Linked DNA regions of Homo sapiens. The protein of the gene in region 2 purifies or fractionates together with the protein of the main gene of each other region. This does not show direct contact. Each region holds a gene or a part of one and is shown on either strand. Other genes may lie near its edges. The genes, in order: NUMBL and BTBD8.

Evidence for each region.
Region 1: the proteins of BTBD8 (region 2) and NUMBL purify together in Homo sapiens (affinity purification with mass spectrometry; 2 studies listed by BioGRID and IntAct, with this or other methods). This does not show direct contact.

The regions. Positions count from the first base shown.
Region 1 is NC_000019.10:40,666,652-40,673,951, forward strand, and holds part of NUMBL (numb-like protein), read right to left. Parts: intron 6,999-7,300; coding exon 6,693-6,998; intron 3,370-6,692; coding exon 3,247-3,369; intron 1,488-3,246; coding exon 817-1,487; 3' UTR 1-816. UniProt on the Homo sapiens protein: Plays a role in the process of neurogenesis. Required throughout embryonic neurogenesis to maintain neural progenitor cells, also called radial glial cells (RGCs), by allowing their daughter cells to choose progenitor over neuronal cell fate.
Region 2 is NC_000001.11:92,181,327-92,185,505, reverse strand, and holds the end of BTBD8 (BTB/POZ domain-containing protein 8), read right to left. Parts: coding exon 2,911-4,179; intron 1,643-2,910; coding exon 1,176-1,642; 3' UTR 783-1,175; downstream 1-782. UniProt on the Homo sapiens protein: Involved in clathrin-mediated endocytosis at the synapse. Plays a role in neuronal development and in synaptic vesicle recycling in mature neurons, a process required for normal synaptic transmission.

The DNA.
Region 1 (7,300 bases), on a different chromosome or scaffold from region 2:
CAGCGCCCTACACACACCCTCGTTTCCCGAGGGGCACCATTATATTCTTCCTTTATTGGCTGTCCTTGTATAATACAAATCTTCAAGTTTAGATACAAAAAAAATCTGGAAATAAAAGATAGAAAAGTACCCGCCAGGCACCCCTTCCCCTTCTTCCCGGACCCCTCCCCAGCGGGCACCGACATGAGGTAACTGCGCATCTTCTCCTCCTCCTCCCTCCCCGCCTCCTGGGCCCCCAACTTGGCCCTAGCCCCCATGAGACCTTGGCCCAAGGAAGACATGGGCCCCAAAGTTGGAGGGTGATGGAGGTGAGTACAGCATTGGCAGTGAACGCAGCGTGTGGGCAGAGGGCAGCCCTTAGCTTGTGCTGTGCATGGGGGGAGGAGACGACCAGATTTGGGGTGGGCACTGGTGTGGGGCCCAGGAGAGCCCCTAAGCAAGTGTCCCCCCTCCATCCTGTCCAACACTGGAAGGTGGGGGTCAACAGAAACTGGGAAATGGAGTGTGAACCAAGGGCATTCAGTGGGATTGTGGCCAACCCCTGTGTCTGGGGTTGGGGAAGGGGGCATTGCCAGCCTAAGTCCGGCAGTGAAATGGTTCCCTTAGCCAGGCTGGGTCCGTCCCTGAATTCCATCCTGTTGCAACCTGGGCGTCACAATGTTGGTTCTGTAGTGGTTGTCGGGGTGGTTGAGGGAGGGGGGTGTTGAGAGGGTGTTGAGGGGCGCAGCCCCAGGGAGCAGGGTTAGGGGAGAGGTTGTGCCTCCACCCCCAGGCGTGGGGCACCTGGAGATGATGGAGTGGGTGGGGCGGCTCGGGCTACAGTTCAATCTCGAATGTCTTTTGCAGGTCGCCAGAAAAGGGGTTGGAGGGTTTCTCTACAGTGGCTTTGCCTTCTAATGCCGCCCACTGGGCCTCAAAGGGGTCCAACTCTGGAGCTGGGGCAGGCGCTGGCTCAGGGGGCCAGGGGGCCCCATTGGGGCGAGGGCGGGCCTGGCTCCCAGGGGCACTGGGTATGGCAGGGGGCGGGAAGGCCCCAGCTTTCCCAAGCAGAGTGGCAGGCTGAGGCTGGAGCTGGGCGGCTGAGCAGAAGGCGTTTGCCACCATCTGTGAGGGTGTGATGCCCACCACGGGCACCCGGGGCATCGGTGGGTAGCCCAAGCCCGGGTAGGCGGGCACAAAAGGGGGCTGCATGTGTGGGGGTGGCAGGAACACGGCCACTTGGGCAGGTGCAGCGTCAAAGGGCCCCACGGGGGCGGGGAAAGGCTGCAGGGCAGGAGGCATGGTGGGCACTGGGGCCACTGAGGCTGCTTGCTGCTGTTGCTGCTGCTGCTGCTGCTGCTGTTGCTGTTGCTGCTGCTGCTGCTGCTGGGCCTTGGCCACCTGTGACACCTCCTCCAGCCATCGCTCAGCCTCTGAAGGTGTCCGCTTGTGCCCAGGCTGGAAGGCAGCTGCAGGGGGCACGGAGGGCTCACCCCAGGCAGAAGTCCCTGGAGAGAGGAGAGGGACAGGTGAGGGAGGGGGCAACGGCTTCAGCAGAAGAACCCCAGGCTGGGAACTGGCATGGTGTGGGGATCAGAGCACGGACTCTGGAGCCAGACCGCCTGCCTCTGAATCCCAGCTCTGCACCTCCCGAGCTTGCTGACTTCAGGCGAGTGACTTCACCATTCTGGACCACGTAATGGTTCTGGAGTGCTAAGAACATACAATTCTGAGCTTCTAAGGCCCTATGATGAGAAAGTCTAAGTAGGACTGACATCCTCCTAGCCCCACTACCCTTCTGACTGGTCAGTGCCAAGCCTAGGATTCACTATTTTGTTTTGTTTGTTGTCTGTTCGTTTTGAGAGTCTCACTCTGTTGCCCAGGGATGCCCTATCTGGGCTCACTGCAACCTCTGCCTCCCAGGTTCAAGCAATTCTCGTGCCTCAGTCTCCTGAGTAGCTGGGATTACAGGCGCGCACCATTACGCCCGGCTGATTTTTTGTATTTTTAGTAGAGGCGAGGTTTCAACATGTTGCCCAGGCTGGACTCGAACTCCTACCTCAAGTAATCCCCCTGCCTCGGCTTCCCAAAGTACTAGGATTACAGGCATGAGCCACCACACCCAGCTGGTATTCACTATTTTGAATATCACCCTTGATTTTCTAATACCTTCAGAATGTATTGTTTTAGGAGTTAAGATTCTAAGATTGCATGGATCTTTCTCCACATGTATAATAGTATCCTAACATAGTAAGGTTTGACAGTTTAGGGTTGGGCTTTCTAAGATTCTCGAGTTCTACATTTACAGTGTTTGAGATTCTAAGGTGCACCTGTGGTTCTAGGATAAGCCCATGGCTCTAAGATGATACATGGTTCTCAAGGATTCCATGGTTCTGAAACGATCTCTGGGCTCTAAGGTGATCCCAAGATTCTAGCATGAGCACATGCCTCTGAGGTGACCCCGTGGCTCTACAATGATCCCGTATCTCTAAGATAATTCATGGTTCTAAAGTGATCACTTGATTCTCAGGTAATCCCACGGCTCTAAGATGATCCTTGGTTCTAGGATGATCCTCTGGTTCTAAGATGATCTGTGTTTCTAAGGTGATCCTATGGCTCTAAGATGATCCATAGTTCTAGGATGATCCCATGGTTCTAAGGGGATCCCGTGGCTCTAAAATGATCAAGGGCTCTGAGATGATCCATGGCTCTAAGGTGATCACATGATTCTCAGATAATTCCATGGCTCTAAGATGATCCATGGTTCTAGGATAATCCCCTGGCTCTAAGATGATCCCTGGGTCTAAGGTGATCACATGATTCTTAGGTAATCCCATGGCTCTAAGATGAACCACGGATCTAGGATGATCCCCTGGCTCTAAGATGATCCATGGCTCTAAGATGATCACACGATTCTCAGATAATCCCATGGTTCTAGGCTGATCCCCTGGCTCTAAGATGATCCCTGCTTTTAAGGTGATTGCATGATTCTCAGGTAATCCCGTGGCTCTAAGATGATCCATGGATCTAGGATGATCCCCTGGCTCTAAGATGATCCATGGTTCTAAAGTAATCGCATGATTCTCAGGTAATCCCATGGCTCTAAGATGATCCATGGTTGTAGGATGATCCCCTGGCTCTGAGGTGATCCATGGTTCTAAGCCTGTAGGATCCCAAGACCCCTGGAGTGTCTGGGTAGCCCTGGATAGAGGAGGGGATACAGGAGGGACATGCAGGGTGTCTGCCCAGCAGAAAGCCTGGCTTTACCTGTTGTGGCAGGTGGTGGCCCTGGTGCTGGCGCTCCAGCACTGGCAAAAGATGAACTGATCTGTGTGCACAGAGCGTTGATGCTGTCACTGTCGCCGGCACCAGGAGGCTCCATCTCAGGCACTGGGAAGCAGGGCAGGACAGAGGTCAGCAAACAGGCCCAGACCCTGCCGCAGCCCCGCCCTCTACCCCCCGCCCTCGGTGGCCCTCTCTTCTGACCTGGATCCTTTCCCACTGTAGTAACTAAGTGGCCATGACCGCCAAATAACTGTGCATATGTGTGTGTCACATCTGAGCGGCAGAACGACTGAGTTAGTGTGTGACATTTGACGGCTGACAGTAACAGGGACCCCAAACCAAGGACCTCAAGATTTGTGTGTGGCCACAAACCAGAAGAGTTGTCTAAAACACTTAGCAACATATATTAGTTTAAAAATATGCCCAACCACGTGCATGGCAAGGACATGGGCCCAGTCTGAATGGGCTGTGGCATGGCCGCTCACTGGCTGGGGATCATTTGTCCAGCTTTGGGCAGAGAAGTGGGGTCCTGTCCACCCCACCCAGGCTGATCTATGGCAAACATCATGAGAGCAGAGATACACCTGTGCCAGCAAGGCAGGAGACACTGAGCAGGCATGGCGGCCCCGTGAGGGCTTGTGATGAGCAAAGGTACCATCCAAATAAACAATTAAGGACTCCCATGTGTGGTGTGTGACACATGTCTGTGATGTTTTAGCCAATGGCTGTCTCCAAGGGACCATGTAGATGCTCCAGTGAACATCAGAACTGGCCGTAGGAGTCTGCAGGTGTGCTGCGGGGGCGCCCGGGTGGGACAGCCAATGTCGACAATGATTGTGCATGTTCGTCCAAACAGGAATGCAGCTTCTGAGAGTGTGACTGGGGTCCGGGTGTGTGGCGTCCTGATGCGTGACTCCCAGGTGTGAGTGCATCTGCCGTGTGATGTATGAGTGTGTTTGCAGGTGTGCATGGATCTGCACATGTGGCTTTGGAGTTTGCATAAATCTGGGTGTGTGGTCTGTGAAGGTGTGTAAATCTGAGTGTGTTTCTTTTTTAAAAATATTTATTTATTTATTTTTGACACAGGGTCTCGCTCTGTTGCCCAGGCTGGAGTGTAGTGGCACAATCTTAGTTCACTGCAACCTCCGCCTCCCAGGCTCAAGCAATCTTCCTGAGTAGCTGGGACTACAGGTGCATGCCACTGCACCTGGTTAACAATAAAGGTTAATTTTTAAAATTTTTTTGTGGAGATGAGATCTTGCTGTGGTGCCCAGGCTGGTCTCAAACTCCTGAGCTCAAGTGATCCTCCTGCCTCAGCCTCCCAAAGTGCTGGGATTACAGGTGTGAGCCACCACGTCTGGCCATGTGTGACTTCTGACTCTGTGATTTTGGAGTGTGTGTGACTTGAGAGTATACCTGACTGTGAGTTTGTGACTTCTGAGCATGTGTGACATGTGTGTGGGGGGGTGCAATGTCTATGTGAGTATGTGAAATTTCTGTGTGGCAAGTCACATCCAAATAAGCGTGCAGCTGGCCACAGGAGTGTGAGGCTTCCAAATAAAGCCTGGAGCTCCTGCCACCTCTCAGGAGCACGTGTGACAGCCTGGGGAGTGTGCCTGATGTCAGGCTGCGTTAAGGACAGCAAATGTGAGGGTGTGTGATGGCCCAGGAATGCTGCAGGCATGGAGGGAGCGTGCGTCACTCTCAACAAGGGTTGGCATCTGCTCACCGGTTACCTTTTGGAGCAGCCCAGCCTCCTGGATACAGCTCAACACCCTCCCACATCAATCCCCGAGGACATAACGGGTAGGCGATGCAGATTTGGCATCCAGGAGCAAGAGAGTGGGCCAGACCACATGGGTTCACTGGCTGCTGGTGGGGAAGACAGCCCTTCTGCCTGCCTCCCTCAGGCAAAAACTCAGTAGCGTGCCACCTCTATCTTCCTTCCCTATGGCAGAGATTGCTCTTAATTTTTTTTTTTTTGAGACAGGTTCTCACTCTGTTGCCCAGGCTGGAGTGAAGTGGCGCAATCTTAGCTCACTGCAGCTGGGCTGAAGCAATTCTCCTTCCTCAGCCTCCTGAGTAGCTGAGACTACAGGCATGCGCCACCACACCAGGCTAGTTTTTGTATTTTTTTGTAGAGACAGGGTTTAGCCAAGTGATCTGCCTCAAGGGATCCTTGAGCCCCTCTTGGGCTCAAGTGATCTGCCTGCCTTGGCCTCCCAAAGTGCTGAGACCACAGGCATGAGCCACTGCACTTGGCTAGACATCACTTTTAGATCATGATGTACACCACCTGTCTCCTTTCCCTGGCCCATGGCAGACATTAGTAATCAAACACAATGCTTTTTTCCCCCACGGAGCTCTTTGCTCACCTTACCCGTCACCTGTCCAGACCTCATGGCTCCCCTGGCCAAGTGCTAGAAGAAACAGATCCTTGTAACTCCATCTTCCCTCCAAGTAAAACAGGACCTTTATATCTCCTCTCTCTTACCACCAGCCATGGCAGACAATGCCAATCAATTATGATGTGCTGCTCCTTTTCGTGATGGGTACTGCCTCTGCTCAACTCTGTGCCTACAACAAATGTTCCTGATCCATCACTATGCCCCTGACCCCTGGGATCTCTGAGCTCACTGGTGCCCTGCATGTCATGTTTCTACTGACCAAATTCTGGGAGTCTCCCCTTTGGGTAAAAACATAACACTCTTGCTACTCTTTCTTCTCCCTTGCCCATGACACACACTGCATGGAGATCATGACTGCTAACCGATCATGATGTGTGCCATCTTTCTCGTTTCCCTTAACCACAGCAGACATTGCTAATTGATCATGACTTGTGATGCCTTTTTTGCCATCCCTTGATGCTCCCTGCCCTAGGCAGACATTTCTAATCCATCACAATCCTCCTTTCCTCAGAGCCTGAGGAATACCTGTATCCTTCACCTAGCCAGATCTCATAGGTGAATGCTTGGAGGGAGGGAGCATTAACCTGTAGTGCTTCAGTCTACTCCTGAGCAAAAACAGGCCAATGGTGTTGCTTCTCTTCTTTCCCTGGCCCATGGCAAACTTCCTTATCCATGCCCGACTTCTTTGTCCATAGCCGACTTTGCTAACTAATCATGATGTGTGTCATCTTTCTCCTTTTCCTTAACCACACCAGACATTGCTAACTGATCATAACTTGTGATGCCTTTCTACTATCCCTTACTCAGAGCAGACACGGCTTATCAATCCTGATTTGTGCTATCTCTTTCCTCTCCCTTGCCCACTGCTAATCGATCATGACATGTTCCCACTCTCTCTCCTTTGCCCATGGCAGACAGTGCAAATCAATCACAGTGTGAACCATCTCGCCTCCATCCCTTGCCCACATCAGATAGTGCCAATTGATTCCAACGCCGTTTCCCACTGGGCCCAGGGCTCACCTGTGCCCTTCACCTGGAAGTCAGTGCGGCGCTGCAGCGTGGATGGCAGCTCATTCAGCCGTAGGCTCAGCTGCCGTTTGAAAGGCGAGTTCTTCTGGCTGAGTGCTGGGAACCCACGGAAGGAGCCCTGGCGAACCAGCTGCTCCAGGGGTGCATGGCGCCGGGGGATGGCGGCCGCAGTGGTGCCTGCAGCCACAGGGGTGCCTGCCTCACCCTTCTCACCAGGGGATGTGGTGGCTGGTGTCGGGGACACGTGCCCAGGCTGGGCAGGGCCAGGAGCCACAGTGGGGGCAGCTGCTGCCTCTGCTGGAGACATGGGGGAGATGGATGGTTAGATATCTCACCATGGCATGCAAGGCCTCTCCCACCTGGTTCTCTTGATCATTCTCCAAGGCTGCCTTCCTTGCCCAGTGAGTCCTGCCCTTAAGACAAGCTAGTCAAAGCCCTGAGATATCCCTCACCCCCACCCAAGTCATGATCCCCTTCCCCAGGAGGCTCTTGGAAAACCGTCCCCCAGGCTCACCCTCTGTGTCTCTCCAGCTTCCTGCCCCTTTCTGTCTTGCCCTGCTGCTCTCACCATTCTTCCCTCTAAGACCCTCTATCTCCCT
Region 2 (4,179 bases):
AATAGGTTAGCAGCTAACCGTAACATAACTATGTTATTAGAACAAATAATTGTGCATTAATATGACTTGGTATTCAATACAGTTATAGATCATATTATTTTTTGAAGACTTTACTAATTTAGAAAAGGAGTTCTAAACTATTTCCTTGCTTCAGACATATTTCAGAGAATTATGAGTCACAAAGCTTTGAGAGAGGCTTATTTATGAAATCTCATAATCCCATTGGCAATATCAAAAGTACCCAAGTACTCGCTACCAGGTAGCATTTTGTAGCAAAGGTTTTTATCTTTGACTTACTACCAAAATTACAGACTGAAAGACAATCTGATCCAGGAAATAAGGAACTGGTGTCTAATGACACACCAAGAAAGCAAACGTGTGTGTGCACATACATACACATACACACAATTTAAACTCCGTAACTCAATTGCCTTATATACTCATTTTCAAGTTTATATTTAGTGCTGGCTTATTGCAGGTGCAGTTCCAACATATCCCTAACATGGAATGGAAAATGGAGAATGAGTGACTACCTGTAAAGGAAGTCTATGCTTTTGAACAAGGGCAGATTCCCTTCTGTGGATATATCCCCAAAAGAGAGAGACAGGAAATTCCATTTCTCTTGTTTTAGTAATGATGTGGTTGAAATTTGAGATGTACTTGCTTCAGAATTTCCTGGGCCTGAATTGTTGGGAAAGCTAAGATTTTCCCCAGCACTCAGCTATCAGCCTCAATCACCTAAATGTGAGTTTGAATGTTAGTCACAGAAAACTCTACATGAATGGACACAAGCACGGTAAGTTTTTATTGTTAAATTACTATGTTACCCTATGCAGAGCAAAAAGTAAAGGGACTGATCTACTTCTGCATTCACATTTTAAATTCTTGAATAATGATTAAGTGAACAAATCATCAGCTAGGAAAGGAAAACTGAAGCTAGGGTTTCCTTATAAGTCTTCTAATTTCTCTAATAATTAGAGAAAACATGCTCAAAAACTTTAGAAAAACATTTTTCTATATGTGATATATTAATAAATAAACTATGTTTACCTCATTAAATTGGAAAGACTCAATATTAAAGAAAGTTTATATCCGGCTAATGCAATTATCATTTGGATATAATATAGGCATCAAAAAATAAAGGAGTGGCATAAATTTTTCCAAAATGTTAACACTTAATGCTGAGTTTCCAGTTCCAGAATTGTCCACTCGCCTTGAGGCGAACAATCTTCAGAGGAAAAACTAGCCATGGTGATGCTCGCTGAGGAATCAAGTGGAGATGTTAGTTCACTCCATCTGTTCAAAGTGTCAATATGTGTTATACCCTGAGGTTTTGAGCTATCTCGTGCTAAAAGTAGTGTCTGATTGATTAGATACTGTGCTAAACTTAAGTCTTCAGGAACGGAATTTGTAACATCTAAGTTTGAATCCTGTTCAGAGAGCAGTTGCTTTAGTAGTGTCCAATCTTGTTTTGCAAAATGTTGGTCATCTTCAAAATCCATATCTGTAACATGTGTTTCTGATTCCACTTTCTGCTCAAATGCTTCTATTACATCCATCTCATATATTGGAGACAGGGTTTTTGAAGGCCGATGGTCATACATGCGGGTTTGTGCCAGTGTGTCACAATCATCTATGTCTCCTGAAATAATTCATAATACTACACAATGTAAAAATTGCACGTTGGTACCCTCAGAGTTTTGTAGAATATTAACACAATATAACAGTGATAGTCAAAAAAAAAAAAAAACACAGAATGGGAAAAATAACTTCTATACAAAATTGACAAGATTTTTGAGGCATTTTTATGTGTTTAAAATTCAAGGGTAATGTTTAGAAGCAAAATCAACATAGGCAACTAACAATAATTCTCCATACTTTAATTTGAAAACTTGTGATACAGAAAACATAAATCATTTAAACATAAACATAGAATGTGCACATATATCTAATTCACTACAATAGAAAAAGAGAAAAAAAAAAGACATAGTGTTTTGATGATGACTTTTAGGGTAAGTCCGTTGCAAAAGGCAGGGATAAATACATTTCACCTAAAGGCTTATTTGTATATTGCACATGCAAAGGAAGATGCAAGCAAGGACAAACAAACGAAAAAGTACAACTTTAAAGACCTCCTTATTCTTCCGATTTTGCTGAACAGGAAACTACTGATCAGTATTTTTCTTAGTTATAATACACAATAGCTACTCAGTCAGCCACTATTGCATATTTTAAATGTGGGTCATTAGTCTGAATTACTATAATAAGGAAGACAAAAAACACAAAACAATTAGACAGAAAATCATCTAAACAATATGAAATAAGCCTGGGCTTTTTTCATATATTATCATTGCTTCTAAATATAATCTCTTAGGAAATTTATCTTTTTATTTGAAAACTTTAGAATAGACAGATCCTGAAAATTTTAATCTCTGTAAAATGTATATAAATTGTAATAATCAATCTAGTTGTTAAAATAGTTCAGTGCTTTTAGTTACATATTACTAGAGTTATTGCACAGGCCTCTTATATACTATCAAGTCTATAAATCATATCCAATGTATAATAAAATTTCTAATAGTCAAGAATTCTTGTGTTAAATTATACATAAATAACTAAATAGCAGCAAACTAAGTTTTTCTTTTTATTCTTTCATTTAAAATCTCTTAGTAGGTTAGCTCTATATAACAATCAAAATTTTTACTAGATATTACTTCTTCATTAGGATTTTAAGTGAACAATAAAGAATGAGTAATTTTCATATTAAGACATTTTTCATTTAAAATTTTAATCTGTTGCTTAAGTAATTATTCTATCTGACTAAAATATAACATTCAGGGCTTCATACAACTTTAAAATTTTATAAACTTATTTTCTTATGCATTTAGCATTTCTATTTCTGTACATTACCTGCAGATAAAGCAATATTAGCTTTTTCAGTAGTTGTAGAATGGCTCTCTTTCACTGGACCTTCCTGAGGCAGAACTTGACTCCGAAAGGAGTCTAGAGATTTTGTAGAGCTGTTCTTTGGTATGTCAGAATTGGGTTCTCTTTGATGAAGATCCAAGTGACATGGTCTTTCTTGAGATTTTACATCACTATCCAAGAATTTGCTGCGTTGCTGAATGTCATTTTCCACATTGCTTCCATTGTTTACTTTTTTATCTTCTCGAAGAAGCTGTCTGCTTCTACTGGATAGGACGTCTATTGTGTTCTTTTTTTCTGTGGCTGAAACACTCTGTTTATTTTTTCTTGAAGAGTCAATGCTACTAAGATCCAAGACAGTGCTTTCATTTTTACATACACTATTGCCTTTATTTTGTTTACATTCTAAAATATTATCTTCACTTTCTCGTGAGAATCTGGAATAGCAGGTCCTTCCATGATGTTCATGAGAAATGCCATCAAAAACATCAGAAGGTGAAAAAGAATCTACAGAAGCCTGAAAGGGAGTATGGACTTCTCCTTCATCTGATCCCAGCTCTTCACATTCATCGACTGAAAGTAAAACTGACCTTTTAAACTTTTTAGTTGCAGAAAATTCACGACATTCATTTTCAGTTGCATCTTCAAAAGCTAAATTAATTATTCCCTGAAACTGCTGAGGAGCTGGGTTAGATATAGAGAAATTTTCTGCAACGTTTTCAGCTTCAGATCTTTCATCTTCTGTTTCATCTGCTGAAGAAGATACCTGATCTATTTCCTGAGCAAACTGGACACTGCCTCGTGGAATATTTTCTCTTTCCCTAGAGTGAACTATTGCAGATCGAGACCAAATTTCTGGCCTTTTCCTAGGGATTTCATCATCACTCGTTGAATTAACTTGGAAAAGATCATTATTACTTTGCTTTTTCATTTTTACTTCAATTCTTAAATTACTATCATAAATTTTTAATTCTTCAGGAGTACTGGTATCACTGCTACTTCTTCCAAGAAAATCATGGCACAGCATAGTGCCACATTTAGAGATACCTCTGTCATTTGACCCATCATCATCCTGAGACCCTCCAGCATCATAGTCTTCAGATCTGGGCTTTATGTCATCGGAGGAGGTGGTAGCACTGCCAGTGTCAGATTCAGGACTCTCTCGCTGATGCAGAACACCAGTACTCAAATTCCAGTGACCCACAAATGGAGTTTCTGGAGTTTCATGGCTCTCTGGAGATTCTGATGTTTCCA